Linked DNA regions of Homo sapiens. The protein of the gene in region 4 interacts with the protein of the main gene of each other region in a biochemical or structural test. Each region holds a gene or a part of one and is shown on either strand. Other genes may lie near its edges.

Region 1 (7,024 bases), on a different chromosome or scaffold from region 4:
TTTTAGCTACTACATTTGTGGTAATTTGTTATGGCAGCAGTAGAACACTAGTATAGATTTTGGTACCAGGAGTGGGGTACTATTACCTAAAAATGAAAGTGGCAGTAGATAAAGGTTAGAATTGTTTTGAGGGGCATGATAGAAAAGGCCTGGAACACAGGAGGATCGCTTGAGCCCAGGAAGTCAAGGCTGCAGTGAGCGGTAATGGCACCACTGCACTCCAGCCTGGGTGGCAGAGTGAGACCCTGTCAAAAAAGAAAAGGCCTAGGACATACTTTTAGTAGCAATATGGATGTTAATGACTCTGCTAGTGAGGGCCCAGACAGAAGTGAGGTCTTTCTTATTGGAAACTGGCAGAAAGGGGATCCTTGTTACATAGTAGCAACTAAGTTTAGCAGAATTGTATCCTATGGTTATATGGAAAGCCAAATTTGCAAGTGATGAACTTGTATATTTAGCTGAGATTTCCAAGCAAAGTATTAAATGTGCAGCCTGGTTTATTTGTGAATGTGAACTTTAATGGAGTGGACCCATGTGGAATACTTCCACAGCCCATTAGGTTCTTGAGAATTTTATGCCAACATAAACAGTTCTAGTTTGGATTGAAAGAGACAGAAAGTAATAGGGCTGTTGGACCCCCCAAATTCTACTGATAGGAAGCAGGCTGATAAAACTACTCACATGTGAATGTGTTGCTTTTCATAAAAGAATCAGGGTGACTCAGACGGAGATAGGAGAGCCCAGAGGGGTGGAGCTAAAAGCTGGAGAGGATTTTTCCCAGGCTTTGAAATGGAATGGAGATTCCCTAGATTTTGAAACTGCTTTGGACCGGAGGCTCTGTTTTCTTTTACATTTTGCCCATTTGAACTGGAATGTCTAACTGTTATTCTCTACATGTCTCACAGTGGTATGTTGGGAGTAGAGAACTTGTTTCTTTAGGAATTGTGCCCCAGGAATTGGACTTACTGTTTTGTCCCCAGAACCTCATCCACACCTGAATAGATGAATGAGATTTGGGACTTCTGAAATGATAAGCTTTAGATGGGAAACCTTTGGGACCTTGGGATGGGATGGATGTATTTTGCATTTGAGAGAGAGATGAATCCTTGGAAACCAGAAGGCAGACTGCGGTAAGCAGAATGGCTCCCCTACGATTTCCATACTATAAACCCTGGAACATGAATATGTTAAGTAGATTTAATTAAAGTTAAGGATCTTAGGTAGATTATCTTGGATTTTCTGGGTGGGTTTATTCTACTCACATAAGCACTTAAAAGCAGAGAACTTTTTCTGGCTGGTGTCAGAGATGAGGCAGAAGGGGAAGTCAAATTTGAAGCATGAGAAGGACTCAGCCTGCCGTTACTGGAGGGGACCAGATTGAAAGTGTGAGACGGGGAATGCAGGCAGCCTCTAGTAGGAAAGGCCAGTCCCAGCTGACAACCAGCAAGGAAGTGGGAACTCAGTCCTACAGCTGCAAGGAACTAAATTCAGCCAATAGCTTGAATGAATGTGGAAGCAAATTTTCCCCAGAGTTTCCAGCAGGGAACCCACCCACTGGATACCCTCATTTAGCCCTTGTGAGACCCAGTCAAGCCCACTGACTTCTGTAAGATAATCCATTTGTGTTGTTTTGTTTGTGATAATTTGTTATGACACAATGGAAAACAAATACAGGGGTTTTGCTGGTTTTATTTTAGAGTCTTTGGGATATCATTTTCTAGAGAACAAAGATAGCAAAGATTCTATAAAACAATTTAGTCCTGGAAGACTCCACGGAATAATGGTGTTGAGTGGAACCTGTGCCTGTTTCTTGATGTTTGAATATTATTATTGTCCTTAGATGCAGTTTGAAGGGGCTTGATGGTCAGCTTAGTGAGATGTAGTTTCTGAAGGTCTAGGACATTGGTAGGATTTCTGTAAATAGGTGGTTCTTCCATATCTTGGATAAATGACATAATTTCTTCATTAGTTTTTATTGGCTTAATAATGGGTTTCTATGACAGCCTTTTAAGGCTTATTTCATATTTTTTTAGAGGAGATGGAAATGGGTGATACATTTTTGTGAATTTGTAACTGTCTCTCTGTTCTCTCACACCTCCCACCCCACCCCAGCTCAGCTCAAACTTGTAAGATCTTTTCTCCCTGTCATTGTCTGTTGAGGTTGTTGAGTTTAAGAGTCAGATCTGGGAATCATCACTACAGAATGGAGTTTCTAGCTTTTAAGAAAAGTCTTTTCTTTTTGTTCTTTAAAGTATCCTATTAATTGGATTCATAAAATATGGACTAACTAAACTTTAGTCAGAGGATGAAGGAAGTGAGACCATTTCTTTTGAGTTATTACCTGAATAGAAAGATGATTACAAGATTAGCATTTCAGGGTATGAAAGACTTTAGAGGTTATGTTTGACTTTGGGTTTAGAGTAAGGGAAATTGGGCCACATGAATGTTAACTGGTCTACTAAGATATCTCAGCCCTAGAGCTAGTCTAGAATCCTGGTCCAGCCAATAGAGAATCATGACTTTTGAACTATGTTCCCTGAGTACCCTTTTCTACTGTTGGCCGGGCATGGTGGCTCACACCTGTAATCCCAGTTCTTTGAGAGGCCGAGGTGGGCAGATGACTTGAGGTCAGGACAAGACCAGCCTGGCCAACATGGTAAAACCCCATCTCTACTAAAATTAGCTGAGTGTGGAGGTGCGTGCCTGTGGTCCCAGCTACTCAGGAGGCTGAGAATCACTTGAACCTGGGAGACGGAGGTTGGTTGCAGTGAGTCAAGATCACGCCACTGCACTCCAGCCTGGGGGACAGAGCAAGACTCCGTCTCAAAAAAAAAAAAAAAAGATGTTAACTGTCTATAATATTCAACTATATGACAACTTTTGCATAAATATTACAGTATGATTTGTACAAGTTCAGAAACTGAAAACCAATATGATTTGCCATTGAATTAGGTAAGGGCTTAGTATTTTAAGGTAATAAATAATGTGATACTTGATTTGAAATGAGAAACTGGGTTTTGATCTGTCACAATTCGTGGGTAACCTGGATAAGGTTTGTTTCATGAGAGTATTAATGTGTTCTTATACCTGAATTTCTTTGAACTTCTGAAATGGATAATTTCGAAAGTAGCATGTCATTTAGTTTATAGAGAAATCTAGGCCAGCCAGCTTTTCAAATGAAGAAATTCCTCTAGGATTATTAAGGAAAAGTAGCTGCTGTCATTGTAACAAAGGATGTATTTTCATTGGGTTATAGACAATTGGTAGTTTTCTTACGTTGAGTGCTCCCAGATGTACTTTTTTTTTTTCACATGTAGAAGTCAAAGATTGAGTCTTTTAAAAAGTTTAAGGTGAAAGCATTCACAGTATCACAAGATACTGCTAAGAGTGGCATTTTAACTGGTTTCTACAAATTCTGTCTTTCAGTCTTAGACATTAAAAAACCCTACGTAGCAACAGTTGCTATGGTCGGCAAGCTTCTTTACATTCGTGGTGATAATGTTTTCTTGCATAGAAAATATTGTGTTATCTGAGGTGACAGTTTTAGGGTTAAATACCAAGGTACAAGTTAGATTAATGTTTTATAATTTTTTATGTGTGACATCTTAAATGCCCTTATATTGGCTGCTCTTTTCTTTTTATACTTTCTTGTCTTGTGGGTTTTTCTGACAGGTTTTTATTAGCTGAAACATTTTAATTTGCTTGGAAAAGTGAACATTTGAAATTTTCCTGAAGTTATGACTAATGCTTTAATGGGCATTTCTCAGTTTAGCTATCTCATCAATGTTCTATAAATTTTAAGAAAGCTACCCTGTTTAAAATGAATGGGTAAATTATTTTCCAAAAAATGGTATCATGTCATATCCAGAAATACGAGATGGTCATTTTGGGTTATTGAATTCATAACCACTCAGAAGATGTTGTTCATTCAGCAGATCCTGAGCGCCTGCCACGTTTCTGGCAGGCGTTGTGCTAAAGATCTCCAAACTGTCACTGCCCTCCAAGCTCAAAATTGAGTGACGTTTTCTGATAACAGGCATATCATACCACAACTTAGTAGATTTTGGAGGTGTTTTCTTATAATAACTCCTATTTGCTTTGTATCTTAGGTGTAGTTTTTGAAACAGCTGCAGAAATGAGAAGGGGGTAGAATAGAGAATTAATTGAGATTGCGGGTAGGGAGGGGAAGGCAATAGGTTAGTGGGAAAGAACTCCCACTTTGAGTTTGGGGAAGTTTACTTAACCTCTTCAAGTCTGGGAGTTCTTGTCTCTACAGTTCGGATAACAACTACCTTGGGCAACTTACTAACTTTTGGTTTCTTCACCTGTAACATGGGAATTAGTAGTACCTACCTCAGGATTTTTGTGAGGATTAATAACTAGAGTACTAGCTAGTATTATCTCAGGATTATTGAGGATTAAAGGAGAAAATTGATAAAATGTCTGGCATGTGGGTGCCCAACATTAGTTCTTTCCCTTCCCTTTCGGAGAAAAGAATGTGTTTATTGCCAGTGCTGTCATTCTTCATTCTTTATTTTCATTTTCTGCTGCCAAGAGTTCTTATTTTTTTAATGAGACTTTTGACCTGTACTTCCTTGTTTCTAATGTAGCCTGTTGGGTGGGTGAGGTATGAATTGCTGCCTAGGGGTGGATCAGTATGTAAGTCACGCCCAGTGTAGATTACCTCAATTACTCGTGTACAGTGTCTATTACCTAGTCCTGGTGAGTCTAGGATTCTTTTGCTTCTAGATAGAGAAGGTAATATTCCCATCTCAGACTCAGGAAAAGGTCTACCTTTGCTCACCTATAGACTTGTAAATATAGATCAGAGGTCTTACTCCCAGTGGTTCTCTGATCACAGTTTGGGAATTGCTTGAATATTGTGTGTTAGGGATATGTTTGGAGAAGGCCAGCTCCCTGCATTAACATCTTCTCTATGTCTTGCTCTCTCAGGTAATCCACTAACTTGCTTTCTTGTTTGCTTTGTATTATTAAGTGATAAACTGTAGGCAGACCAGGAACTTGTATTTATCGGCACTTTAAAACTTTTTTTTTTTTTTTTTTTGAGATGGAGTCTTGCTCTGTCGCCCAAGCTGGAGTGCAGTGGCGCAATCTCTGCCTCCTGGGTTCAAGTGATTCTCCTCTCTCAGCCTCCTAAGTAACTGGGATTACAGGTGCATGCCACCCCACCGGGCTAATTTTTGTATTTTTAGTAGAGGCGGGGTGTCGCCATGTTGGCCACGCTGGCCTCAAACTCCTGACCTCAGGTGATCCACCCGCCTCAGCCTCCCAAAGTGCTGGGGTTACAGGCGTGAGCCACCGCGCCCGGCCAGTGTTTTGTGTATTTATGATTATATAGAATGGCTACAAATGGCCATCTGCTTTGGAGTTGTCTACCTTTTGTGAAAAAATGAAAATAGACTATTGCCTAGCAATTAAGTATTCAAGCATGTATTTTGCCACATAATTTATTGTGAGAAGGTTATCAATGTCAAATAAAATGCTTTCATTATTTGCTTCTATTTGTCTGTCTTCCTGACCAGTTCATTTTTCCTTCCAGTGAAGCCATCTTGAGCTAGGGTTTTCTTTGTGGGTAGTTGTTAATTTTTTTTGTAGAGACAAGGTCTCACCATGTTGCCCAGGCTGGTCTCAAACTCCTGGGCTCAAGCAGTCCTCTTAACTCAGCCTCCCAAAGTGCTGAGATTACACTCATGAGCCACCACACTGGTCCGAAGAAATTTTTTTTTTTTTTTTTTTTTTTTTTTTTTTTGGGAGATAGCATCTCACTCTGTTGCCAGGCTGGAGTGCAGTGGCACGACCTTGGCTCACTGCAACCTCCACCTCCCGGGTTCAAGCAATTCTCCTGCCTCAGCCTCCCAAGTAGCTGGGACTACAGGCGCACGCTGCCACGCCTGGCTTTTTTTTTTTTTTGTATTTTAGTAGAGATGGGGTTTCACTGTGTTTCCCAGGCTGGTCTCTAACACCTGAGCTCAGGCAATCCACCCATCTCGGCCTCCCAAAGTGCTGGGATTGCAGGTGTGAGCCACTGCACCCAGCCTGGTCTGAAGAATTTTTAAACACCACAGCTAAGGACCTGAGCATTCATCTGCAGCTACCTATATGCTCTTGTTACATACAGTTGTTATACTAGGGGGTTTTTCACAGCCATCTTTTATGACTGTTTTTGGAAAACATCACATTGACCTTCATACATATTCAAAACTTTAGGCTTTGTTGCATCTGGAGTCCAACACTGAGGCCCACAGATGTCACCAGCCCCCAGCCAGCAAGGTGGGGCATGTCTCAGTTGTCTTCCTTTCTCCCTTCAGTAGCCACACAGAAAAGCTTTTCCATCATTTAAAATCTGATTTTTATACAATTGTGGCCTGGTGGCCAGCCCATTCAGGTAAAAGAATAATGAAGAAACCTGATTATTGAAACTCAGTATCCCACCCCTACCTTGCCTCCAAATTTAAAGCAGTTCATTTTATTATAGTGTTTTGGATAGGCTGTTAATAAATCAGTTTGGAGAACTAAGGAAATAGTATTAAATTTAGTGAAAAGAACCTATTTAGGCTTTGGATCCTAAACAGATCTGGCTTCCACCACTTAGTAATCCTGTTGTTTTTGGCAGATTATTTAACCTCTGAATCTGTTTATTTCTAAAATCAGAATATGCATCTGATACTGTGCCTGGTTTGTAAGAGGCATTCAAATGGTAACAGTAGTTATTACATTCATAAGTGCTGAATTTTTCTTTAGATTACTGTATATCCCAAATGAAGTTTTCCATCTTTTGGTTCCAGAGGGTAATAGCCAGTGGAGTAAAGTTTCACATTGTGACTTTATTTTGCTTATATGGCGTGGTAAAAAGGTGTATAGATGATGACTATATTGTAAGAGACAGTACTGGAATTCCGATTTCTCTTAGGTGTTTGGGGTAGAACTATTAATCCAAATCAAACTGCTTGGATTTTCTTCTAATACCTCCCTTCATTGGGAGACCTCACACTGTTGCTATGTC
Region 2 (7,024 bases), on a different chromosome or scaffold from region 4:
AAAAGTTGTGAAAAACAATAGAATATATCATATATAAATAATATATCATATATAAATAAGTACAATCAGCCTTCTGTATCCTGTGGGTTCCACATCTGTGGACTAAACCAACTGCGGATTGAAAATAAGGAAAAAAATTCTATCTGTACTGAACATGTACAGAATTTTTTCTTATTATTCCCTCAAGAATACAGTATAACTATTTACATAACATTTACATTGTATTTAGGTATTATAAGTAATCTAGAGATGATTTAAAGTATATGGGAGGATGTGTATAGGTTATATGCAAATACGCCATTTTGTATTAGGGCATCTGTGGATTGTGGTTATGAGCAGAAAGTCCTGAAACCAATCCCCCATGGATACTGAAGGATGACTGTATATAGAATCTATAAAGCACTACAAACCACAAAAATGTGGCCAGGTGCAGTGGCTCACGCCTGTAATCCCAGCACTTTGGGAGGCTGAGGCGGGCGGATCACGACGTCAGGAGCTTGAGACCATCCTTGGCTAACACGGTAAAATCCCGTCTCTACTAAAAATACAAAAAAAAATTAGCTGGGCATGTTGGCATGCACCTGTCGTCCCAGCTACTTGGAAGGCTGAGGCAGGAGAACTGCTTGAACCCGGGAGGCAGAGGTTGCAGTGAGATCACGCCACTGCACTCAAGCCTGGGTGACACAGCAAGACTCCATCTCAAAAACAAACAAACAAACAAAAAAGCCAGAAAATTGGGCAAAGGGGATAAATAAGCAATACAGATGAAATATAAGTGACTGTTAAGTATGGAAAGTTCAATGTCCCATAATCAAGAAAATGCAAATTAAAATACCAATGTGATACTTTTTCACCCAGACTAGCAAAAGCTAAGCATTGATAATCACCCATTGTACAATATGTATGAAAAATGCAAAGAAGAAAAAAACGCTGCTTATTTCATAAATATATGGATATACGTGCAGAGAAAAGGCTGGCAAAGGTAAACAACTGCTAAGTAACTTCTGAGGTCATGACAGATTTGGGTTTTGATCAAAGGGAACTTTGGTTTCACTTGTATTGACTGACAATGACAAAACAGTTTTTGTGTCATGAAAACTAAAGGTAAAATAATTTTGAAGATCAAGGAAAACAAATATTTAGTCCTAAAGTAGCACTACTCATGGTAGCAAGTACCAGAGCTGGTCCATGAACAGTTTCCAGTTTGCAGTGAGTTAAGTACAGGAATTGTGTTTCATAATTTTTTTTTTGTTTTTTTTTTTGAGACAGAGTCTTGCTCTGTTGCCCAGGCTGGAGTGCAATGGCGTGATCTTGGCTCACTGTGACCCCTCCAGGGTTCAAGCAGTTCTCCCTGCCTCAGTCTTACAAGTAGCTGGGATTACAGGCACCCACCACCACGTCCAGCTGATTATTGTATTTTTAGTAGAGACGGGGTTTCGCCATGTTGGCCAGGCTGGTCTCGAACTCCCGACCTCAGGTGATCCGCCCGCCTTAGCCTCCCAAACTGCTGAGATTACAGGCATGAGCCACTGTGCCCGGCCCTAGAAATTTTTAATAGCAATTTGATATAATAATTTTATGACTGCTGAATCTAATAAAACTTGAGCTTATGTTTTTGTCTTCACTTTTCTAGTAATTCATTTTTTATTGAATTTTACAAAAGTATACATCTAGTGATTTTTTTTTAAAAAAGTCCTTCGCAGTTTGAGAAGCACCCCTCAAGTACTCATAGATATTCAGAATTTGGCCCAGTACAAGGCAGATGGCAATCTGGAATACAATGTAAGCTATGGCAGTTAAGAATTTTGGATTATGGTCCATTCAGTTACTTAGCTAGAAAGGGTAGGATTAGTAGTTCAGTGGTCTAATCCAGGGGTGGATAAACTTTTTCTTTAAAGAGACAGTAAATATTTTCGGCCTTGCAGGCCCTATAACCAGTTTCTGTTGCAACTACCTAACTTTTCTGCTGTATCATGAAAATAGCCATAGGTGATATATAAACGAATAGGTGTGCTACATTCCAAGAAACTGTGTTCTAAAAACGCTAATGGGCTGGATATGCCTGGTAGGTAACAGTTTGCCAACCCCTGGTCTAATCCCATTTCAAAATCAATGCAAAAAGGACATAATCAGTGCTGCAATACTTTTATTCATTAAAGTCAACATTACTTCTCTGTAACCACTCTGAAAAATTCCTGTTACCACTGAAACCGAGGAGTGAATGAAATCCACCAATTTCAAGTTCTATGCTAAAACATGCTTTGTCGTTATACCTATAACTATAATAAAACAACCTCATATTCTGCACACTTCCTAAGTCCGTAGATATTCCCCAACTACAACTGTATAGGTAAGGAATTTGAGTCATGTGTATTTGACATAAAGGCCTTGGAATTGCTGTTCTGGCTTTTCATAGTTATCCAGCAGCACATATTCACCAATTACAGAAATAATACCTCAAATACATCTTAAATATAAGATGCCACAGATAACTCCCATTAAATTTTAACAAATAAGGTATAACTTTAAGTAACAAAATGCATCCCACAGGAAATAGAAAATGGCAGTTTCATTAATCCTAGTACCTGTCCAAATTCCCAACTGCTTAAACACCTAAAAAAGAAAGTTTCAGTGGATCTTTCAATTTGCAAAGCACAAATTGCCAATTTTATGGTGATTTTCACATTCAGCTTACAAATCAATTAAGAGACATTAAAGGTGTTCTTATGGCTAGCCACAAGAAGAAATTACATGGCCTCTTTTCCTATTGGCTTTGTGGTCACTATAAAGTTTGTCACTGAAAGAAGTATGCCGGGAGGCCAAGGTGGGCGGATCATGAGGTCAGGAGATTGAGACCATCCTGGCTAACACGATGAAACCCCGTCTCTACTAAAAATACAAAAAATTAGCTGGGCGTGGTGGAGGGCGCCTGTAGTCCCAGCTACTCAGGAGGCTGAGGCAGGAGAATGACCTGAACCTGGAAGGCAGAGCTTGCAGTGAGCTGAGATCGCGCCACTGCACTCCAGTCTGGGCAATAGAGCGAGACTCCATCTCAAAGAAAAAAAAAAAAAAGAAGTATGCCAACTTTCTCTACTCTAGCTAACAGAAGTCTGGAAGAGCATATTTGTTCCTCAGACCAGATATCACAACTTCAAAGAGACAAAAGATTAAAAGGACAGGAAAAGGTAAAAGGATTCCTTAGGAAGACCCTGACCCCTGAAATCCCATGAGAAGTAACAGAACAGGACAGGGCCTGCAAGCCAAAGAACATATGAGTCACAGCAGGATCAGAACTGCACAGTGAATGCCGAACTATTACCTTAATCTCATTAGAAATGTCCATTCAATAAAGAAAATCTGATTTTATGGATCAGTCAGCTTTCCTCTAATGAGCAAACACCAATAAAATGATTTACGAACCAGCTGGACTGGATAACAGTTATGTCTATTGATTAACACTGTCACATTAACTTACGTGATTACGTTAAGTGCAAGCTCAGCAGAATGACATCGCTCCAACTTCTGTTTCAGAACAGCAACTTCTTCAGATCTGGGTGGTTCATACTTCTTTACTAAGTTTCTCATGCCTATGTGGATACAAAAAAAGAATTTAAACTGAATAAGCAAACCTCCTTCTCATAGTAAGGGAGCTGGTTACTTTTCCATTTTGTCATAGGAAACAACACTCTTCAAATGACATGGTTATTCTCAGGATTTGCATCATTCTGCATTTCATTCTACATTAAAATCCAATAAGCACTGTATGTTTAGTTCAAGTAATTATGGCTCTCTGCTGTTTAGCCCATATCATATACAGCATAAAGCACACTATAATCTAGCATTAATTTTTGGCAAATCCTACTGGGGTCACTTCTTGTTCAGTTTTAAGACTTAAAAAAAAAATCCCTAAATGATTTAGTGAACATGTTTTGTTCTCTATCACCAACCATCTTCGTAGTATTCTATTCCATAGACAGTGGGCCAAGCATATACTTCCTGTTTTCAAAGGAAACTGTTATTACACAACATGCAATAAAGGGAGGATGCTCAGTAAAAATTTGTTAATAATCCTTTGCTTTAACAAAACGCAAACCCTATACAAAAATGTCCACTTTAGGTTAAAAGCAAACTACTGTATCAGTAACTTTATAATTGCAAAAACATCCTCTAGCTGATCTTGTTATTCAACTATAATAAACCAAAGAATACAAATTTCAAGATTAGGGGAATGATGAGAGATCCAATGGGCTTATTATTACTATTAGCCAGCCATGTGATCCAAATGACTACACTACTGACCTATTTCATAATGCAAACAAAGCAGTATTTTTAACTGAATTAATACTTGTAACTCAACACCCTTAGGACAGTATCTATGTTCCAAAAATTACAAATATCTTAGTAGCATTAAACTTCTGAGTGTTTTATGAAGAGCTGTTTTTATTTCATTTTAAAACAAGTGGAGCAAAATAAAGGTATTGAGAAGAAATCAGTAATAAAACTAAGCTATGAAATGAGTACAGTGGAATAAGACCTTTACCTACTAAATTCTATGATCCTAACAGCTACAGTCAAATCACAATTAGCTTTTAAAGTGTACCCCCTAGTGGTATAACTAAAGACCTACAGTTTATAATTCATAAATCACAGCCATCATTCTCAAAGGAAGCCCTCAGGATCACTTCGAGCAGAGAATCAGGAAATGATACATAGATGCCCTGAAGCATCTTAAATTTTAAAACACAAAATATATAAAATGTATGCCCATTTACTGTCATCGAAAATCAAGATTTCAATCTTATATTCTACTGGTTTAATATTTAATTACAATACACATTTAATTAACAAGAACAATTTACACAAGAAGGTTTGGAAACAAACATGATCGACTTTTAACCCCAAAGAGTAGCTTAGCAGCCATGACCAAGTGTGCCACGGTCAAGAATGGAGAATGCTGGCTAATCCAGCCAATAAGTAAAGTAGAGATTCTACTCAACTCTCAACACCGGCACTAATGACAGGGTTTCTCAACACCAGCACTAATGACTTTTTGGGCTGGATAAGTCTTGATTACGCAGGGCTGTATTAGTTTCCTGACATTGCTATTAAAATTATCACAAAAGTGGTGGCTTAAAACAACGGAAGTGTATTCTCTCATAGTTCTGGAGCCCAAAAGTCTGAAATGTTTCACTGTGCCAAAATTAAGGTGCTAGAAGGGCCATACTCTCTCTGGAGGCTCCAGGGATGAATCCATTCCTTGCCTGTTCCAGCTTCCGATGGCTGCCAGCTTCCTTTGGCTTGCAGCCACATCACTCCAATTTTCAAGGCAAGCATCTTTAATTCTTTCTCTGCTGTCTTAACAGTGCCTTCTCTGAGTGTGTCAAATCTCCTTCTACCTTTCTCTTAAAAAAATAATTTATCTACAAAATAGAAGTTCCAAATTTAAACATTATCCTTAAGTTATTTCCCATTACATCTTTTTCAGTGCCTAGTATGTTTCTTTATTCTTTAAAAGGATCCTGTTGTCAATCTCTAAATCCTTTCTAAATCTGACTCTATTTTCACTCTTTGCATAAGTTCTATATAAATGAACACTACTTCCTTCTATATACCTTCTATTTGTTCTAGACCAATGTGTCTTTCATGCTTCCATAATACAGTAATTCAATGAAAAGAAATCTAAACAAAAATCTGTTATATTTCTAGTTAAACACCAAGAGATTTATTTAGAAAGGAGCTTTGTATTGGAAGAAACATTTTGTAAAGTGTTCTCTTTTACTTACTTTTCATTATATCTAGTAACTGTGACAGGCAAGTTCTGTTCTCTTTCAGCATCAGACTCTCTGATAAATAACTAGTAAAGAAAAGAAAAAAAAATCTATTGAAAACATACAGCACATTGAGAAAACATGACATCATAAATTATTTTCCTCCATCCTCATCAAAGGCAATTAAAAAATTTTTAAATTTATGAATGTATAATCTGTAACTCCTATATTTTAAGGATTTATTACCACTTACATTAAAAGATGTTTATTGTTCCTTTAAGTTTAGTGACATTCAGGTACAACCTTTCAGAGGGAAAATAGTATGAAAGCAACAGTAATAGCCAGTACTTATAACATTTATATCTTTTAATATAGAAGCCCAATAAGGCTAACCTTATTTTACAGATGAGGAATCTGAGTTACAGGGATGAACAAGTCATGATCTTGTAACTTGCCCAAAGTAATAAAGCTAGGAAGCAGCAAAACTGGAATCTGGCACTAGTAAGGATTCTCTATTCCCTTAATATGAAAGCCATTTTATCTATAGTTGCACTTCTGTGGAGTAACAGACATTCAAACCAACAAGACTACCACCTAATGCTTTATAAATCTATTGCATCTTATTTGCATCAAGTCCAAATCAAAGGTGTTAAACTTACTTATCAATGTGATATAAAACCCAAATTACCTGTTTTTCTCAGAGCCACTGACAGTATGAAAATATAATTTCTATATTAAAATTTCAGTTACTCTGAAGTTTTACATACCTGAACTTGACCTATGATTGATAAAAGGCGAAATGAACAGATTCTCAAAATGTTAAATAGTTTTTCAAACACAAATGCAAAAAACTTATTTTTCTCTTGGGGGTAATAGTTAGAAAAATAGAAAGCAATGCTTTAAGAACTCTTGTTGCTGTCTTTATCCAGATTTATTTAAATTTTATTATAAAGTTTGGTAACTGTTTGATATTACATCATCATCATCTACTGTGGGAATAAATTTTGGATCTGAAAATCAGGAAATCTCCTGACAACTAATCCATTTCTGGCTACCAGTAATTCAAAATAACTAGTTTTTTCCTTTCCCTCTCCTACCTAAAATTCCTCCCATTTTTGTCATCTTCCTTTATTTTTACTCTTCATTTCCTTTTGATTTCTTAAGCATAAGGGTCATAGGTTTGGTGCTAAGAGTTGGCTGACTAGACTCATTATCTCTGTGAAGTTAGCAACTCTTAACCTCAATTTTGAATTTGA
Region 3 (7,024 bases), on a different chromosome or scaffold from region 4:
TTTCAGCTCTGGCAAGAAGAGGGAAGATATCAACTCCAATCAACCTAATTAGATGGTGGAGAGGCCAAGAATTCAGAATGTGTCCTTAATCCTTCACAGCTTCAACACCTCTCTAATACCAGTAAAAACTGTAAGAAAATAGTTAAATGCATGAGACAGCAGATATATAGCCAAGGCCTTCTACCACCCTCCTAACTATGTCTCAATATCAATTTATTCCCTAGTCCAAGGATGACATATTTCATAAGTAATTTTCTTAGTCCAAAAAAAAAAAAGAAAAATTATGTGTTTTTTTAAAGAAGTTTTTTTCTCCTCTTCTTTTTCTTTTTTTACTTAGGAAGGGGTGGAAGTGGTGGAGGAGGTTCTGATGGCAGAGGTGGTGGCCGGGGTTTGTCTGTATTGCCAGATCTCGAGGAGATTCCACCAGACCGAGGATTCAGATAGTCACTATAAGGACGAACAAATTCAAATGCAGTGGGCTGAGTGGGCTGAACACCCTGGGCACTGAGCAGGGAGTGAAGCATATTCACAGTGTCTTGATAGTCTATTGTCTGGGTCGTGTTGTGACCATTGGCCCCAGTGGGCCCTTTATCCAGTTTCGAATGAGGGACACGAGTTTTACAGCTGGGCTGTGAAAAGGAAAGGCCACTTGTGTCTGAGCTATGCCCAGGCATCTGACCCATTGTAGGAAGTGAAGGGAAGGAGAAATTTAGGGAAGAGGATTTAGTACTCTTGGCAATCTTGGCTGGATGATCAAACACAGCCCCTCCAGTCTCTTCAGAGGGTCCCCTTTTACGAGTAGAACTGGAAGAGGAAAAAGAACTAGACAAGCTATAGGTTTTATGTGCTAAGTTGCTTGTCTGGCTACTATGTTTTGGATCACCAGGACGTTTGTTCCCAGTACCAACTGGAAGTTGGGAATGAGAGTGCTTGTGTGAGTGGTGATTATGATGATGATGATGATTAGATGGGTGAGTCTTGTGCTTTTCTTTGTGCTCTCGGCTCTTTGTAACACTGTCCTCTACAGAATTGTGCTTATCAGCTGCAGCATGGACTTTTATGCGCATTTTTATCTCCTCTGGTTTTGAAGACGCAGCTTTATCTCCACCTGCCACTGGGATTCTCATTTTGAGAGCTGTTTTGTCAGCCTTTTCCAGAAAAGGCCGCTCGGGGTTTTCTGAACCCTCTATGGGCATTTTTAGAATGACTGAAGAATGGCTATCATGATGAGAAAGGAGATTCTGGGCAGCATATGCATATTGTGACTTCACATTGGCTTCCATGTTCTCCAGTTGCCTCTTCTGGGCAGCCAATTCTTCTGCATGCTTCGCGCGGTATTCTTTCAGTGACACTTTAGCTGATGGCACACTCTTACTATTCTGCTTCTGGGAAATAAATGCATTTGAACCATCCTGTGGTAAGGAATGATCAACTCCTGTAAGTGCTAAATTCTCACTAGTCCGATGACCCTGAGTAGGTTCTAGTTTGAAAGAAGGTTGGGAGGACAGCCAACGCTTGCCCGGCAACATCTCCACACTGGTTAAGTTGCTGGATGACTCTTCGGAGACTGGCAGGGAAGGCACTGCACTTGTGGTAGAAGTTGACATGCTCATTAAACCTGCAATGGTTGTGTCTGAAGAGCTCTGGGAAATCATATTGAGGATTGTCTGCTCTGAAGTCTTTTCATCTGTTCCTCGGTCATCTGCTTTTGTTTTCTTGGCAGCCTCGCATGCCTGCAATGAAGCAAATAGCATCTCTTTACTTAGGTAATTTACTAAATAAAAAAACACTGAGATGAGTAGATTGTACTTGCAGCAACACTGGAAGTTCTGGATAGGCCACAGGCAGGAGGCTATCCTAACATGTAATCCAATAAATATTACCATCAAGAGAAGATTTTAAAACCTTCAATTAAGAGTCACAGCAATCTATCCAAACGTTACAAAGCAATAATAACAACAAAGAATCTATGCTTATCTAAAATTCATACATGAACATCCATGCCTTCGCTTATGATTATAGTTAGTCCATAACTGAGTTCTAGAAATTTTGGTGAGGTTTTATGCTAAAGTAAAAGATGTGCTCTCAAGCCTACTTCTTTTTTGTTGTTACTGTTGTTTTTTGTTTGTTTGTTTGTTTGAGACAGAGTCTCACTTTGTCATCCAGGCTGGAGTGCAGTGGCACAATCTCGGCTCACTGCAACCTAACGTCCCGAGTTCAAGCGATTCTCCTGTCTCAGCCTCCCAAGTAGCTGGAACTACAGGTGTGCATCACCATGCCTGGCTAATTTTTGTATTTTTAGTAGAGACGAGGTTTCACCATGTTGGCCAGGCTGGTCTCGAACTCCTGACCTCAGTTGATCCGCCTGCCTTGGCCTCCCAAAGTGCTGGGACTACAGGCATGAGCCACCATGCCCGGCCTCTCAAGCCTACTTCTAATCTCAGGCTTCTAAGAGGCAAACTCACTCTCTGCCACTCACTCAACTCAGGAGAATGAAATTAACTTTTTCTGTCTGGATTTAGGAGAAAACAATGGAAACATTTTAAAACAAGTTTTATATCTGACAGAAAAAAAAGGAATGATTCCATTATTCCTGAATAAGGCTTTGACAAGTATTTGAAATACAACTTCAGACTACAGCCTATATAAAAACAAAATTCTAAAATCCATTTTAAAAGTAGGTAATGTCAAACACAAAACTGTGATACCGGCTCTAACCTTGTAATTCTCTATCTTGCCTCTACCAGAAGCCAATACTCTAACTCCGAGAAGCCATGTTTTTTCCCTACCAGTTTCCACACAGAAAATACTGAACCAGTGTTACTGCTCAAATGATCATATCACAGGAGTTACACAATGAAAAGCAAATCCTGCTATCCCATAGAGACACTGACTTTTACAACAGTATCCAAGGTATGAAGTAGAAGTCATGATTACTGTGTAACTATAAAAAGGGCAATTCCAAACCTAGGGTACATATTCAATACTGGTATATTCACTGGTGCAGTCAAAAGAAATTGATTTTGTTCCACAAGCTGACAGTAATGATTCTTACCCTCCAATTCCAAATGCGTTTGAGCCTGTTGGGAGTTTTCTCCAAAATCTGTAGAAACTCATGTGTCAGTTCTACAAGTAAAACAGAACATTCAAGAAAGACTGAGAGAAACAGAAGTAATGAAACAAGAATAACCTGAACTACTAACTAACTATTTTCATCTGAATCAAGTCACCTTTGGCCAGCTATGTGACAGATCAACAGCAAGTGCTTTTCAAGGTCCCTTACTCTAAAACTTACCATCTAAAAGTTCCAAGGTCACAGTGGCGTCAACATACTCCCACCAGTGCTTCCCGTCAGTTGAGACTGGGATCTCCCAATTGGACCACTTGCAAGCCAGGTGAATGCAGACACAGGCCACCACAGGAGGTGTGTACTGCAGGCTAAATGTGGTCAAATGCAGGCTGACATCAGAGGGAAGAAAACAGAGAGTGTCATGAGCTCTCAATTCTCAGCCCAAAGCTAAAACTCTCCATTATTTAAAAAAAAAAAAAAAAAAAAAAAAAAAGGCTTAAAAATAGACAGGAGAGTAAGAAGGGTAAGAAATATGCAATGCTCTGATCTAGCACTCAATATAATTTCCTATTAACCCACCTGTTCAGGTAACAACATTTTAAAAACTCTTGAATTACACATCACTTAATCTACACATTGACCAGAGCCAAAAAAAAAAAAAAGGAAAAAAGGAAAAAGGCTGGGAATTCAAGTTCTTTAAAACATTGACTTCTGGGCCAGTATTCAAGCCTAGAAGTCAATATTTATTACCTATTATCCTGAGACTAAGCTCAGATCCTAAGGAAAATTGTAAGCTTTTTGGTCTGTGTAATCCGTAAATCAAAAACTTAAGGAAATATCTTAAAAATAATTTGTCTCTCACCAATCATAGTTCTGGTCTATTTAAAATAATAAACAGACAACTACTCTCTCAAGTATAAATATGTTGGTTTATTTCAAAACTTTTTCGTAACAGGCTATAAAAATGAACTTCTTAGCCCTGACAGTTACTAGGGATATCATTGGTTTCCATTAACTAACAATGTTGGGCAAGTCATTTGGTAATACAAGTTATGTACTAATCATTTACTTTTTTTAGACAGAGTCTCTCTCTCTGTCACCCAGGCTGCAGTGCAGTGGGGCAATCTCGGCTCACAGCACCCTCTGCCTCCTGGGTTCAAGCAATTCTCGTGCCTCAGCCTCCCGAGTAGCTGGTACTACATGCATGTGCCACCTTGCCCTGCCAATTTTCGTATTTTTTAGTAAAGATGTGGTTTCACCATGTTGGCCAGGTTGGTCTCGAACTCCTAGCCTCAAGTGATCCACCAGCCTCAGCCTGGGATTACAGGTATGAGCCACTGTGCCCAGTCTCATTTACTTTTTTTAAAAAGGGAAGAAGGAAAAAGACTGAAACTCTTAACATCCATAAGTGCCCATTGATTGATAGAGGGGGAAGAAAAAGGAATATTTTAAAATATAATTATTGGCCAGGCACAGTGGTTTACACCTGTAATCCCAGCACTTTGGGAAGCCAAGGCAGGCGGATCACTTGAGGCCAGGAGTTTGAGACCAGCCTAGTCAACATAGCGAAACCCCATCTCTACTGAAAATACAAAAAAATTAGCGGGGCATGGTGGCGCCAGTCTATAATCCCAGCTTAGTGAAGAGGCTGAGGCCGGAGAATCACTTGAACCCGGGAGGCAGAGGTTGCAGTGAGCCAAGATCGCACCACTTCAGTCCAGCCTGGTAGACAGAGTGAGACTCTGTCTTAAAAAAAAAAAAATATATATATATATATATATATATGCCTGTAATCCCAGCACTTTGGGAGGCTGAGGTGGGCAGATCACGAGGTCAGGAGATCGAGACCATCCTGGTTAACAAGGTAAAACCCCATCTCTACTAAAAACACAAAAATTAGCTGGGCGTGGTGGCGGGTACCTGTAGTCCTAGCTACTCGGGAGGCTGAGGCAGGAGAATGGTGTAAACCTGGAAGGTGGAGCTTGCAGTGAGCTGATATTGTGCCACTGCACTCCAGCCTGGGCAACAGAGCAAGACTCTGTCTCAAAAAATAATAATAATAATTTAAAAAAAAAAAAAAAAATATATATATATATATATATATACACATATAATTATTGCAGAATACTCCAAATTAGATTTTCAGTCACTATCATGCAGAACTGAGTAGGTTATCAAAAAAATCAGTACTAAATAATTACATAACCTTAGAAAATTAAAAAGTACCATGGAAATTTAAAGTACAACATGAAAACTGTGCAGAAAAATCAACATTCACCAGAGAATTATCTATAGCACACTGTATCAAACTCAAGTAAAGTCCTATACCAAAAATCGAAGAGAAAAAAAAATTAAAATATAAACCTGTTGGTTGCCATGAAGTAAGAAGTCTGTGCTAAGTCCTTGCTTGCTAAAGAAAAAAAAAAAAAGTCAGGGGTGGGGGAGGAAAAAAGTTATTAGTTCCATTCATTCTCAACAAATATTTAGTAAGCATTTAATATTTGCAAGGTACTGTGAATATAGTGGCAAATGAGACACACATGGTCCCTGTAAACCTGACGTTTACATTCTGCCAAAGTAGACAGATCAATGATTTTTAATTTTAACATTAATAACTATGCTGCTTCCAGATCTAGGTACTCAAGCTTTATTCTGCACACCACATATCTGAGGTACTTGTTTAAATGCAATTCTTGGACCTGCTCCCTAAAATTTAATTAAATGTTTGGAGAAGGGTGCAAGCATTTTTTAACAAGTAACCCAGAGATTCTGATGTAAGGATTCACTGAGAATCACTAAACTACAGGATGAACTAAGATGATCTAGAAGCAAGATCAGAATCTAGAAGACTTTGACATATTTGGGAAAAGTGACTTTTGCTGTTAAGAAAGTTTTTAATTAAGGCTGGGCACGGTGGCTCACGCCTGTAATCCCAGCACTTTGGGACGCCGAGGTGGGCGGATCACCTGAGGTCCAGAGTTCAAGACCAGCCTGACCAACATGGAGAAACCCCGTCTCTACTAAAAATAAAAAATTAGCTGGGGTGGTGGCGCATGCCTGTAATCCCAGCTACTCGGAAGACTGAGGCAGGAGAATCGCTTGAACCCGGGAGGCGGAGGTTGTGGTGAGCTGAGATCGTGCTACTGCACTCCACCCTGGGCAACAAGAGCAAAACTCCGTCTCAAAAAAAAAAAAAAGTTTTTAATTAAGTAGCCCTAATTAAGATTTAATTAATTAATCCCCAAATCATCAAATAATGTAATATATTACAATGAAAAAATTTAACTTCTTCCAAAACAAACTGTTCTGGGTGACAAAGCAAATTTTTATCTTCCTCAGGACATAGTCTTCTCAATATTAACATACACCCATCTCTAGTCTTATCCTTGTGCAATATAACATTTTAATACTTTCAAATATAAAGAACTCAGGAAAATTTGGGAATTTTCACAGGAAACACATATTAGTAAAATGTAAAATAAGACCAATTATCAGTTTGGCCTAAAAATCATAAAAGGCACTTAAAGGCACAATAGTGTTCAGATATTCTTGATACTAAACTAAATAAGAGAGTTTCATTCAATTATACCTAATATTGTTAAATTAGAATTAAAAAGAAAAGTTCTGCCAAGGGATTGTATATCATGGAAAGTCCAAATAAATTCTGTATGATCCTCTAGGTGGCCTTTAATCAACCCCAGAATTAAAATAAGATCACCCACTCCTCACAACTTTCATAAAATTTCTGTTAAATAACTTCACAAACTGCCCAACTTTGACAAACATTCTCAAGAGGTTAGTTCTCTTTAACTAGAGATCATCTAAAAATATTACTTGTAAGAACCCAACAGAAAAACATCAAGTCAGAACAACTCATTTTGATTTAAGCCAAGTAGGCCTTTAAATTTAGCCAAAGCAGAACTATTATGTATTGTCCACCACAAACCACAACCT
Region 4 (7,839 bases):
GGTAACTGAAGAGGAGCCAGCGGCGGGGGTGGGGGGTCAAGTATGGTGTAGTGTTGGGGAAGTGAGACTAGTAACAGTGCAAACGAGAATGTCCCAGACAGGAAATGGAACTGGGGATCTTGGTCTCATTTCCACCTGACTTTAACCACCAAGCAGTGTCTCCAAGCCATGAATCAGAGACCAAGAATCCAGTGCTACAGCTTAGAGAAAAGGCCCTCCCTGTCACTCTCCCACCACAGCATCCCAATTTCTCCAACTCTTCACTGCAAGCCTGGAAGCCAGGCACTCTCCAAAGGTCACAATAAAGATTGGCAATCAAATGTCCACAGAGGATAAGCAGGCAACATAAGTGACTGGGACAAGTCACCCGAAACACACAGCACTCTCCATCTACCAAACGTTTTCCAGAACACAGCCACATGAAATCTTTTCCTTTTCTTCACTCTGCCACAAGGCAAGCAAGAGGACAAATGGCAACTAACATATCCTGGGAACTGGAGAAAATTCCCAGCTGTATAAGTAGGGCAGCCACTCATCAAGCAAACGGCTGCTCTGCAGAACAACTCTGTGTCCCAGGGTGCCAGCTCCTTCCATTTCCCCAGAAAAAGAAATCTTAATCTTTATGTTAAATCTCCCTCACAAGCATTGGCAACTAATTTAACAGCCAATTTAAGTTTCTGTGCATCAAACAAGGGATCTATAATCACCCTGTCATCTGTTTACTGGTTTGTGATTGCTACCTACTAAATGTCAACTCCAAAAATGCAAAGATTTCCTACCAGACACCTGAGAAGTAAGTGGAACACAGTAGTAGATGCAAACACTGATTTGTTCAACAAACAAATAAAACAAAAATAAGTTTAAAAGGTGGATAATGGGCTTGGTGCAGTGGCTCACGCCTGTAATCCCAGTACTTTGGGAGGCCAAGGAGGGTGGATCACCTGAGGTCAGGAGTTCAAGACCAGCCTGGCCAACACAGTGAAACCCCGTCTCTACTAAAAATACAGAAATTAGCCTGATGTGGTGGTGCATGCCTGTAATCCCAGCTACTCGGGAGGCTGAGGTTGCAGTGGGCTGAGATCATGCCACTGCACTCCAACCTGTGCAACCTAGTGAGATGCTGTCTCAAAAAAAAAAAAAAAAAAGATAATGGCAAATAAAAGAACATTTGAAATCAGAAATGCCCCAGGAAATGTTGGTTTTTTGGTTCCTGGAACAGAGGTACAACAGACCCAAAGCCAGAGTGATCCTTTCAAAACATTAGATCACATCTTCCACTTGCTCAAACTTTTTCGTGGTTTCATTTTACTCAGTTAAGACCAAATTCCTTACCACAGCCTTCAAGATCCTATATGACTTGGCTCTCATAAATTCTTTGTTGCACTCACTCTGATCCAACCAAAGTGGACCCCCTTTTTTTAGGGGGTGGTGGGGAGACAAAGTCTCACTCTGTCACCCAGGCTGCAGTGCAGTGGCACCATCACAGCTCACTAGACCTTCACCTTCTGGCTCAAGCAATCTTCCCACCTCAGCCTCCCAAGTAGCTGGGACTACAGAAGCGTGCCACCAAGCTCAGCTAATATTTTTATAAGACGGAGTCTTGCTCGTCGCCCAGGCTGCAGTGCAGTGGCGCGATCTCAGCTCACCACAGTCTCCACCTCCCTGGTTCAAGCGATTCTCAGCTTCAGCCTCCCGAGTAGCTGGGATTACAGGTGGGCGCCACCATGCCAAGCTAATTTTTTTGTATTTTTAGTAGAAATGGTGTTTCACCATGTTGACCAGGCTGGTCTTGAACTCCTGACCTCAGGTGATCCACTGTCTTGGCCTCCCACAGTGCTGAGATTACAGGTGTGAGCCACCAAGCCCGGCCTCAGCCAATGGTTTTTATATTTTTGTAGAGACAGGGTCCCGTTGTGTTACCGAGATTGCTCTCAAACTTCTGGGCTCAAGTGATCCTCCCAGCTTGGCCTCTCAAATCCTCGTTAATCCCTGAACACGGCGGACACACTCCCATCTCTGCACCTGCTGGTCCCCCTCACTGGAACACTACACTTCCAGCTAACCACGACTCACTCCCTCACCTCCAACAAGTTTTTGCTCAAATGTCACCCCTCAGACTCATGCTGATGACCCTATTTCAAGAGCAACCAGGACTCTCCATTCCCCTTTTCTGTTCTTTTCTCCAGAGTACCTTCCAGCTTACTATATAGTTTATTCCTTGGCTATATTTATTTACATTCCCGAAGGCAGACATTTTTAAAATCTTTTTGTTTACTGGTGTACCCTAAGAGCAAAGAATTGCGCCTGGTACATAGTAGGCACTACAAATATAGTTATGGAATGACTAGACATAACTAAAAAAAAAAACTAATGCTAAGTGCTTACTATATGCACACAGAGTAAACTTTCAAAACATCACCTGTTATCTCACTGGACCTGACCCATTTCTGGCCTCCAGAACCTGTCCCTTTGCTTGACTTCGACTTGCCTAATTCTCTATCTCTTGAGACAATCTGGGAGTTCCCAGAAGCCAGAGCCCGCTGTGAACCCCTCGAGCCTCCCACAGGGGCCTTTCTGCCCGGAGTCCTGTCCCCAGACGCAATGTCTCCCCCAGCGCCCCAGCCACAGACCTCGGCCTCCTCGCCGTCACTGCTGCGCTCGCTGTCCTCCTCCTCGGAAAAGTTGCTGTCCTCGCTGTCCGACATCTTCCGCTGCTGCTGGGAAAGACAGCAGCCTTGGCGCGTCCCACAATCCTGCGCTCCACCCCGAGCCTCAGTTTCCCCGCTGGTTCCCTGGGAGAAGAAAACCCCTTAGGGCGCTTCCGGCAGGCTCGTTTTGGCAATCGCGAAGCGGAGTGAGGACCCCCTCCTACGCCACATGCTAGACCTCCCCAGTTTCCGAATCTGTTCTCTACACCTCCCCGGCGCCCGGAACTGCCACCTCTGCACACGCACTTACCTCTCGGGCTCCACCTCCGCCTTCGGTACCAGCTGCTGTTCGCACGACGCCTGACTGGGGCTGACGGGTCCTCTCGCGAGAACCTACCCGTTGACCTCGCCTAACACGAGATTTCCGGGGCTGGCACGGGCGACGCACTTCCAGGTCGCCATCTTGAGAGAGGCAGGGCTGGCCTGGGCGGAGTGCGGGGCCGACATCTGCGGAGGGTTAGGAGGGGAAAGGTTTTTTCTACCCGCCGGCTCGGCGACCAGGCTGAAACTCATGTTTGAATTTAGTGAGCCGTTTGTTCGTTAGTCCGGAACACTAGCGCGGTAGGCCAAGCTGCGAGGAGGCGGCGAAATCAGCGAATAGCAAATTATAAAAGAAACAAGGCTTTATCTCCTAGGCCCTCTAAAGCATCCCCAGGAGATCCGTATCCCCGTTTTGGAGAGAACGCTGAAGCTCAGAAAAACTCAGTGGAAAGCGGCAGACCCAAGCCTCCTCGCCAAGTCTGAGTGACCGTGAAGCCCTGGTTTTTCCTTCTTTTTCTTTCTTTTTGTACTTTTTTTTTTTTTTTGGTAGAGTCGGGCTGTTGCCCGGCCTGGTCTCAAACTCCTCTAACTCAAACTAAAAAGCCATCCTCCGGCCTCGTCCTGCCAAAGTGCTGAGATCACAGGCATAACCTGCCGCGCCCGGCCCAAGTCCCTATTTTTCTTTCCAGGCTTCCTAAGTTCATTTAAAGGCGAATTTATCTATTAGTAATGACGGCTGACGAGTGATGGCAGAGTGGACAGGTGTAATGGAGAGATGAAAAATGAACCTTCGCCTGTAATCCCAGCGCTTTGGGAGGCTGAGGCGGGAGGATCACCTGAGGCCAGGTATTTGAGACTAGCATGGGCAACAAATTGAGACCCCATGTATCCAATTTTTGTGTTTTTTTTAATGTGGTGTGGTGGCGTGTGCCTGTGGTCCCTGCTACTCCAAAGGCTAAGGTGGGAGGATCACTTGAACCCATGTTGAGGCTTCAGTGAGCTATGATTGCACCACTGCACTCCAGACTGGGTAATAGAGACCCTGTCTCTAAAAAAAAAAAAAAAAAAAAATTAAAACTTAAATTTTTAAAAATTGAAAAATTAACCTGATAGGGGAAATTTTAAAAATCAGAAGTCTATGTCAGTCGCGGTGGCTCATGCCTGTAATCCCAACACATTGGGAGGCCGGGGCGGGCAGATTGCCTGAGGTCAGGAGTTCGAAACCAGTCTGGCCAACATGGTGAAACCCCGTCTCTACTAAAAATACAAAAAAATTAGCCGGGCGTGGTGGCATGTGCCTGTGATTCTAGCTACTCGGGAGGCTGAGGCAGGAGAATGGCGTGAACCCAGGAGGCGGAGCTTGCAGTGAGCCGAGATCGCGCCACTGCACTCCAGCCTGGGCGAGAGTGAGACTCAGTCTCAAAAAAAAAAAAAAAAAAAAGAAGCCTCAGGACACATTGGTAAAATTTCTCACATAAGTATGACACACCTGGGCCGGGCGCGGTGGCTCACGTCTGTAATCCCAGCACTTTGGGAGGCCGAGGCGGGTGGATCACGAGGTCAGGAGACCGAGACCATCCTGGCTAACACGGTGAAACCCCATCTCTACTAAAAATACAAAAAAAAATTAGCTGGGCGTGGTGGCGGGCGCCTGTAGTCCCAGCTACACGTAAGGCTGAGGCAGGAGAATGGCGTGAACCCGGGAGGCCGAGCTTGCAGTGAGCCGAGATCGTGCTACTGCACTCCAGCCTGGGCAACAGAGCTAGACTCCATCTCAAAAAAAGAAAGGATTCTCCACCGGGCGCGGTGGCTCACGCCTGTAATCCCAGCACTTTGGGAGGCCAAGGCAGGCGGATCACCTGAGGTCAGGAGTTCAAGACCAGCCTGGCCAACATGGTAAAACCCTGTCTCTACTAAAAAATACAAAAATTAGCCAGGTGGCGTAGTGGCGCACACCCGTAATCCCAGCTACTCGGGAGGCTGTGGCAGGAGAATCTCTTGAACTTGAGAGGTGGAGGTTGCTGTGACAAAAGAGCAAGACTCCGTCTCAAAAAAAAAAACAACAAGAAAATAGGATTCTACATATTAAATCGCTACAGACACTGCTGCAGAAAGCCATTCCCTGCAGAAAAAAGAGGGCACAGTCATTTCCCCAGCCATGGAAGTTTCTTCCTTGGTGGATCCGTGGTTCTGAACTCAACTCTGGTAGCACATCAGAATACTTGAGAATATTTTAGAAAGAAAGAGTTGCATAATAGCCCTAAACTGGAAACACAAAAATTAGGGCCGGGCGCAGTGACTCACGCCTGTAATCCCAGCACTTTGGAAGGCCAAGGCAGGCGGATCACGAAGTCAGGAGTTCAAGACCAGCCTGGCCAATATGGTGAAACCCCATCTCTACTAAAAATACAAAAAAAAAAAAAAAAAAAATAGCCAGGTGTGGTGGCGCACGCCTGTAATCCCAGCTACTTGGGAGGCTGAGGCAGGAGAATCACTTGAACCAGGGAGGTGAAGGTTGCAGTGAGCAGAGATCGCACCACTGCACTCCAGCCTGGGCAACAGAGTGAGACTCGTCTCAAAAGAAAAACAAATTTTGGTACATCCATCCATGCAACAGAATAGTAACAACTACCAATACACCCATGACTGAATCTCCAAAACATTATGCTGAGTGAAAGAAGCCAGACATCAGGAGATGTCCAGCATGATTCCATTCATATGAAACTCCAGAGCAAGCAAAACCAACCTATACAGACAATGCAGATTAGTGGATGTCTGGGGCTGGAGAGGGAGGTGGAAATTGACTGGGAAGAGAGAGAAGGAATGCTTTGGGGTGATGGAAATGTGGCCATCCAGTCCACCAGCCGGTGCACTCCAGCCTGGGTGACAAAGGGAGACTCTGTCTCAAAAAAAAAAAAAAAATGTCAGGTGTGGTGGCTCATGCCTATAATCCCAGCACTTTGGGAGGCCAAGGGGGGAGTATCGCTTGAGCCAGGAGTTCAAGATTAGCCTGGGCAATAAAGGGTAACCCCATCTCTACAAAAAATACAAAAATTAGCTGAGTGTGGTGGCATGCGCCTATAGCGCTAGCTACTTGGGGGACTGAGGTGGGAGAGTCACTTGAGCCTGAAAGATCGAGCCTGCAATGAGTTTTGATCATGCCACTGCACTCCAGCCTGGGTGACAGAGTGAGACCCTGTCTCAAAAAAATATATGGGCAGATGCCAAGTTACAGCCTGTGCAGCATAGTGAAACCCTGTCTCTAAATAATAATAAAAATAATATAGATGCTCAGGCTTCACCAGAGACCAATTATCAAATTATCTGGGCTGGGGTCTGGCCATCAGTATTACTTGAAAGTTCTCCAAGTGGTGGGCTGGGCACGGTGGCTCACGCCTGTAATCCCAGCAGTTTGGGAGGCTGAGGTGGGCAGATCACAAGGTCAGGCGTTCGAGACCAGCGTGACCAACATTGTGAAACCCCATCTCTACTAAAAATACAAAAATTAGTCAGGTGTAGTGGCGCGTGCCTGTAATCCCAGTTACTCAGGAGGCTGAGGCAGGAGAATTACTTGAACCCAGGAGGTGGAGGTTGCAGCGAGCTGAGACCATGCCACTGCACTCTAGCCTGGGCAACAGAGTGAGACTCTGCCTCAAAAACAGAAAAGAAAAGAAAAGAAAGTTCTTCAAGTGGTAATTTTTTGTAGCCAGGGATGTAGGGATGTGAACCACAGGACCCTCCCTGTTCTCAAGGTATAGGGATGAGGTTAGAGAATACCTGTGCACTTCTCTGTCCCTTCCTGGAAGAAGAGAGAAGAGTATCTAAAGGAGGGTGAGAATGGGGGCAGGTGGGGCAATTTATCCAACTCCCTGCCCAAGAGGTCAGAGACTTCAGATCGCACCTTACTTTCCTCCTTCTTAACTCTTCCCCTTGGCTACTAGGGCTCCAGGTGGGGTCCTCTGGCCTAGAGGGAAGAAAAGGCTTAGGGTTTGGCAGTTGGAGCTGAAGACTATTCCCTCCCTCTCTCTACCCAGCCTCTCTGGGTGTACCTGGGAGCCCATGTCCTCCAAAGCTCAGGCTGTGGTAGGGTGCCAAGCACAAGCTCCCTGTAGTAACTCCAAGAGGGGGACAGGTCTCTGGGGATGTCCTTCACAGGACAGGCAAGGGCCCTGGCTGGCCACCCACAGCCGGGACCCCAGGAGATCCAGCAGGTACTGTAGCTGGAACACAGCAGTTCCCATAGATGGTCCCTCCTCAAACCCAATCACAGACAGCTCCAACCTGGAGCAGCCTAGAGTCTCAGCAGGACACACAGTAGGGACAAAGTGACCTGGTATCTATGGGTAAGGGCATGAGTCCAAGTCCCCACTCCCAAGATTTCTTATCTGTGTCCTGGAACAAACCCCTTCAGTTCTCTGGGCCTCAGTTTCCTCATCTGTAAATAGGGCTCTGGATAATCCCAACCGTAAGGCCTGACACTATCCCATGCTGTACTTATGTGCAAGCTAGAAAAAGACACTCAGCTGGGCACAGTGGCTCATGCCTGTAATCCCAGCTCTTTGAGAGGCCAAGGCAGGAAGATCACTTGAGCCCAGGTGTCCAAAACCAGCCTGGGCAACACAGCGACACCCCATATCTACAAAAAAAAAAAAAAAAAAAAAAAGGTCGGGCACGGTGGCTCACGCCTGTAATCCCAGCACTTTGGGAGGTTGAGGCAGGTGGATCACGAGGTCAAGAGATCGAGAACATCCTGGCCAACATGGTGAAACCCTGTCTCTACTAAAAATACAAAAATTAGCTGGGCATGGTGGCACATGCCTGTAGTCCCAGCTACTCGGGAGGCTGAGGCAGAAGAATTGCTTCAACCCAG

Evidence for each region.
Region 1: of the proteins of SUPT5H (region 4) and CSNK2A1, one has a biochemical effect on the other in vitro, tested with the Homo sapiens proteins (2 studies listed by BioGRID and IntAct).
Region 2: the proteins of SUPT5H (region 4) and CCNH form a complex in vitro, tested with the Homo sapiens proteins (one study listed by BioGRID).
Region 3: the proteins of SUPT5H (region 4) and CCNT1 form a complex in vitro, tested with the Homo sapiens proteins (2 studies listed by BioGRID, with this or other methods).

What each region holds. Positions count from the first base shown.
Region 1 is NC_000020.11:533,781-540,804, reverse strand, and holds part of CSNK2A1 (casein kinase II subunit alpha), read left to right. Parts: intron 1-7,024. UniProt on the Homo sapiens protein: Catalytic subunit of a constitutively active serine/threonine-protein kinase complex that phosphorylates a large number of substrates containing acidic residues C-terminal to the phosphorylated serine or threonine.
Region 2 is NC_000005.10:87,395,919-87,402,942, forward strand, and holds part of CCNH (cyclin-H), read right to left. Parts: intron 5,855-7,024; coding exon 5,784-5,854; intron 3,588-5,783; coding exon 3,476-3,587; exon of another isoform or gene 3,475-3,475; intron 1-3,474. UniProt on the Homo sapiens protein: Regulates CDK7, the catalytic subunit of the CDK-activating kinase (CAK) enzymatic complex. CAK activates the cyclin-associated kinases CDK1, CDK2, CDK4 and CDK6 by threonine phosphorylation.
Region 3 is NC_000012.12:48,692,704-48,699,727, forward strand, and holds part of CCNT1 (cyclin-T1), read right to left. Parts: intron 5,481-7,024; coding exon 5,435-5,480; intron 3,536-5,434; exon of another isoform or gene 3,460-3,535; coding exon 3,296-3,459; intron 3,127-3,295; coding exon 3,056-3,126; intron 1,734-3,055; coding exon 330-1,733; 3' UTR 1-329. UniProt on the Homo sapiens protein: Regulatory subunit of the cyclin-dependent kinase pair (CDK9/cyclin-T1) complex, also called positive transcription elongation factor B (P-TEFb), which facilitates the transition from abortive to productive elongation by phosphorylating the CTD (C-terminal domain) of the large subunit of RNA polymerase II (RNA Pol II).
Region 4 is NC_000019.10:39,440,757-39,448,595, reverse strand, and holds the start of SUPT5H (transcription elongation factor SPT5), read right to left. Parts: upstream 3,015-7,839; 5' UTR 2,959-3,014; intron 2,953-2,958; exon of another isoform or gene 2,793-2,952; 5' UTR 2,706-2,792; coding exon 2,631-2,705; intron 1-2,630. UniProt on the Homo sapiens protein: Component of the DRB sensitivity-inducing factor complex (DSIF complex), which regulates mRNA processing and transcription elongation by RNA polymerase II.